Linked DNA regions of Homo sapiens: region 2 is linked to region 1. The links come from fine-mapping of genetic effects on gene expression. A gene starts in region 1. The other region holds a variant in brackets. All regions are shown on one strand. Distances are between the middles of the regions.

Region 1 (2,802 bases):
ATCGCCCAGGCTAGATCGCAGTGGTGCTATCTTGGCTCACTGCAACCTCCACCTCCCAGGTTCAGGCAATTCTCCTGCCTCAGCCTCCCAAGTAGCTGGGATTACAGGCGGCCACCACCACGCTTGGCTAATTTTGTGTATTTGGTAGAGACGGGGTTTCGCCATGTCGGCCAGGCTGGTCTCGAACTCCTGACCTCAGTTGATCCGGCTACCTCGGCTTCCCAAAGTGCGGGGATTACAGGTGTGAGCCACCACACCTGGCCCCAACTGTTCTTTAGAGTAACTTTATCTTCTGTATCAAATGAATCTGTTAGTATTCACAAGAATTATTCTCTCCCTCTCCCCACAGGCAATGTTCAGTATTCAAAAGATTCATCAAATTTTACACACCAGGGAGTTAACTTGACAGTTTATGATGAGTAACTATAGTTATCATTTTCATCAATGTGGCTTCACACTTTTATACATCCTAGGGCAAAATCCCCCAAAGTAAGAGCCTAACACCCAAGGCATATTCATCCCTTTATTGCTTTTCCTTCCTTCTTCCCTTCAACCTGCCAGTGAGCCTTCTTTTGATCTTGGGATGTGTTCCACTTTGTTTGAAAGAGCATCCAAAACTTTTCTAAGAAGAGAAATTAGCAGGGAAGGTTAGAAGGAAACAATGCTAAAAACATACTGTTTCTTTCCTTGTTAAGCCACGTGTAATGCCTGTAACAGGGGTGGACGACGGGGGAGGACTCCCGATGGCCTTCAGCAAATGGCTCCCCCAGGCCTTTGGGGATTTTATCACAATTTAGAAATCCCTCCTAAACTTCCACTTCCTCCCAGTCTCACTAATTTCTCTTTATCCACACATAGGCCATCCCAAAAGAAACCTGTTTTCATTTTAAACTTTAGAATCTGATCCATTTTCTTTTTAATTCATGAGCTTGAGCCTGGAGGCTTTAAAGGGAGGAAAATGGTTTCATTAAAATGGATGGATGGCTAGAAATAATATATAAAACAAATTGAACAATAGTTTACCCAGGAGGAAGAATCTTACAAAAATCTGGCAGTTTCCCTTCAACGGGAGATGGGTTCCAGCTGTTTGTTCCTGGAGATGGGTTCCAGTTGTGTGAACCTGGAGGCCTCTCCAGGTTCTGATTATATAGTGTTCCTAATATATAGTGTCCCAGTCCTGGCAGGGACATGAAAACCAAGGACACTGCTCTTGAACAAACGAGGAGGGTCATTCACCTTTTCGCTGGGCATGATTGGGTTAGATATTAACCCACCTGAATGGATTAGAGATTTGTTCTGGAAGACAAAGTTTGAGAAACATGGCCTTCTGTCCAAAAGTTGCCCTTTTCTGCTGTCTGTGGTGCTTACTCTTGTTCATGGCAGGACTGAGGTTTCCCTATTCACACATAATAGTCTGGATCCATAAGATAGCATCTCTGATCTCCCTGGGCCAACTCCAAGAACTGCCTTGGAAGATGTCACAGAGTAAGATATGGTCTTCCAGTAGGATGCTTTTCCACTGTACTATTTATCATTTATCATATCACATCCTATTTATCGTATCACATCATTTGGTTTCATGAACGGATGCTAAGCACGTTATTCCATCGATTTCATACAGCCAGGAAAGCACTTCCAGAGAAGGTTGTGTGACAGCTATTAGTACACTGCCCCTCCCCCTACACTCAACTTCTCAGCTTCTAACCCCCAGAAGCAGGCTTGCCATGTTTCCTGGGTTTCTCCTTCTTCCATCTTTACCTGTCCACAAGAGACTAACCCTGAACATTCAATCTTCTGATCCTTGTAATGTAGTTGCAAAATTGCTTATCTCCATCATCAAAGCAGGGCTGTAGATCCATTGCTTGCGTAAAAACAGTGGGCCAAAGGTCACCAGGATCACCTTATAGATCTCATAGTTTCCAATATCAGACAGCAGCAGGGTACCAACTGTTTCACAGACCCCCAGCATTTGCCCACAGTGGTGTTGGATCTAGGACAGTGTTATCTTTTTAAAAATCCTCAATCCTCTGTTGTCACCCACCTAGCTGCCAAGTATTCAGTCTGGCTGCACTTGAGAAGGTGTCAAGAAAAGACAGGCTGCCTGCTAGTAAAACAAATGCACTTGAAATCACAATAATTATAATATTCAGTGCAATCTTTCATTTTGTGAAGCTCTCACATACATGACTACATTCAACCAACACCAGGACTGTGTGAGGTAGGCATTATGTAAATATGCTCTGCTCATGAGGAAACTCCAAGAACAAACAGCAGATGAATGGTGGAGTCAGACTTTGAACCCTTCATAAGCAAGGAGAAAACTGACCTGTCTTTCCAGGCTTAGCTCAAGCAACACCACCTCTGAGTCCCGAAAAGCGGTACCCTGCCACAGCATACAACCCATATGCGCCTGCACACACACAGCCCCATGGCCTGAAGCACCAATTCAAGCACCGACTCACACAAACAGAGCAGCCTCTGATTTTAGAGTTCTGCAGTAGTGCTGAGGTGGGGCAACCAGCAGCCTCTGAATATAGTTAGGTCCCTTCTCTGCCTCTGGGCCTTCACTGGACAACCTTTGGAGGATACACAATCTGCCCACAATGCAAAAAGACAGTTTTATGTTTTTCTTTTAAACTTGGCACAAGGAAGTTTTGTTGAAATGAAAAGTAGGGTTTGGGGGAAAAATTACTATTTCATTAGAATGCATCTAAGCACTTAGTCATTTGTGTTTAAAATACAACAAGGAATTATATTCTATGATTAAGGAACATCACATCTTTGTCAGTAATTTTAATACAA
Region 2 (2,802 bases), 22 kb before region 1:
CACTGAGTCCAACTATGAACTGGAGCATAATTGTTTAGAAATTCTTGATGCAGTCTATTCCAGCAGACCAGATCTGTCAGATCATCTGATGGCCACTCCGGACTGGGAGCTATACACTGACTGAAGCAGTTTCACAGAAGGAGGACAACGCCAGGCCAGGTATGCTCCAGTGACCCTAGACAAAGTAGTAGAAGCCTATGTCCCCGCTGCTGGTACTTCAGCACAAAAAGCTGAATGGATTGCTCTCATCAGGGCCTTAAAACAGTCTCAAGAGAAATGGGTAAACATTTACACCTACTCCAAGTATGCCTTCTTGGTAGTGTATGCCCGTGGGGTCATTCAGAAAGAAAGGGGATTCTTAACCTCAAGAAATAAAGACATTAAACACCTGCTGGAAATTTTAGCTTTGTCAGAGGCAGTTGTTCTGCCAACTCAAGTTGCTATTATGCACTGCCAAGGCCACCAAAAGGATGACTCCCCAATAACCAAAGGGAATCAAGTGGCTGATAAAGCTGCAAAGCAGGCCACTCAAGAAACATATTTACTTGGGACCTTAATACTCCATTTAAACTTGTCAGAATTTAAACTCCACTACACTGAATGAAATGAAGAATGCACACATGAGTGGACATTGACCAACACAGACCCTTGTTCCTCATGGAAAGCTAACACTCATGGGATATTACTCTCTGAGGCCCTGGTATACCCAGTCCTGAAAGACCTGCATGAGGGGACACACTATGGCAGAGATGGACTGGCTCACCTGGTGTAGCCATATCTCAAAGGGCCACACCTTCAAAAGATCATTCAAAAGATTATACAAGCATGTTATCTATATACCCCAAATGATTCAAGAACTGCATGCAACTCTTCCCAGAGGAGGATACAATACAAAGGAATATGACCATTCGAGGACTGGCAGGTTGATTTCACCCAGATGCCAAAAACACTGGGATTTATAAGTACCTACTAGTGTTTGTAGACACATTTTCTGGAAAGGTTGAAGCTTACCCGAGCAAGAGATTGAAGCCTATCCGAACAAGTCTGAGAAAGCTGCAGAAGTAGCTAAGGCTCTGCTAAAAGAAATCATTCCTCGATTTGGACTTCCTTACTCCATACCAAGCAACAATAATCCTTCTTTAATTTCTGAGATCACACAAAGGATAAGCCAAGCATTACAGATCAAATGGAAATGACACTCTTGTTGGAGGCCACAATCAACTGGAAAGACTGAAAAGATGATCCACATGCTAAAAAACAAAAACAAAAACAAAAACAAAACAAAACAAACAAACAAAAAAACCAAAAAAAACCCCTGGCAAAACTCTATCGGGAAACAGATTTAAAATGGTAAAGGGTTTTACCTATTGCCCTGCTATGGATTGGGGTAGCACCCTGAAGTGGGCTTAAATTAAGCCTTTTTGAAATTGTGTGTGGGAGACCCTTCTGAAGTTCTTGGCCA[G/C]GGACCCCACCCTTGGACTTAATAAATTAATCAAGAATTAAACAATATGTACAACAACTAAGACATAAATCACTAACCCTGCACAAGTTTGTTCTTTTTGTTCTTTCCAGTTTTATGTGTCTTACAAAAAAGCCCCTTCACCCTTTTCATCCAAGGATAAAGTGCCGCTAAAATCTTGGTAAAAACAAGGACTGGACCAACAACAGCCAGCCAAAAAGTGGACAGGTCATTATGATGTTTTATTAACTACTCATTCATCTGTTAAGCTGGCTGGAGTCAAACCACGCATACATCACATTTCGGTAAAAATCGCCCCTCCCCAACCTGACACAGCAGACAATCAACCTGGTTGGACTTGTGAGCCAACTGGAGAACTGAAGCTACTGCTTAAGAAAAATCTTTTTGTACTATAGGATTAAATTTCTGTTATTCTTTATCATAATGAGTAAACTTTTTTGACATCTGCTAAAACTAGTCTATTTCTACAGTGGGCATAACATTATGCAGATAGTCTACACTAAGATGCTTGCTGGGTATGTGGATTGCTACCCATCTCTAGCACTTCTGGGCTACTTTAGTGAGTATCACCCCTGCAGGGGACTGATTAGATACATTTACAAACGTATATGAAAAACTGTTCATGGGAAAATCAGGACCTTGGTAACTTAAGGTAATATTTTTTAAAAATGGCCTGGCATTAATATAACGCTTCAGAATCCAGATCCTGGAAAACTCTTCATTATAACCGGACTATCCAAAGGACCTCTGAGTATGCAATCCCTCTCTTAAAGGAGTTTTCCTAGATGGCCCCCAAGATTTTGGCTACTAATAACCATTACACGGTAGGTGAGTTTTTATCAAATTTGGGACGATTACCTCTGGATGATCTCCACTATTAGTCACTTAACCCAAATTGCCACTTCATGTTGGGAACAAAGGAATCACTCTTAGAATCATTGGCCGAATGTTACTAAAAATGTGGATAGGATGCCTCTACATCAATATGAACATTCTTTAGTGCTATATTAGACAAACCTGTTTACCACTGATTGGACACAGACCCAAAATTTGGTGGCTGGTCCCCAGTGGAACTCAATAGTTATGTGAAACTAATCTTCGGCCATGTCTACCTGATGGATGGATAGGGCAGTGCACGTTAGGACCCCCATAGGTCCGGGGCTGATTAACAAAAACCACCAGGCAGCCTGCACACTTTCCAGATGTGTTACACCAATGGACCAGGCCGGTTTTCCCTTCCTACGACCATCTCCTGTCCCTTGTTTTCCCCCAAGCAGGCTTAGAAAGCATCATCTGGCATATTGAGGCACTTACAAATTATA

The links.
Region 2: its variant is fine-mapped to the expression of ANG in whole blood (INTERVAL, PIP above 0.99).

The regions. Positions count from the first base shown.
Region 1 is chr14:20,687,096-20,689,897 of GRCh38, reverse strand. It overlaps ANG (angiogenin), which reads right to left and starts at 1,134. Exons shown (of 2, transcript NM_001097577.3): 1 at 1,024-1,134. The region is part of intron 1 of RNASE4 (ribonuclease A family member 4); the gene reads right to left.
Region 2 is chr14:20,708,889-20,711,690 of GRCh38, reverse strand. It overlaps LOC124903282 (a long non-coding RNA gene), which reads left to right. Exons shown (of 2, transcript XR_007064061.1): 2 at 1-1,898. Among named protein-coding and RNA genes, the nearest start is that of EGILA, 3.3 kb to the right of the region's middle. The variant G/C (reference allele first, on the strand shown) is at 1,463.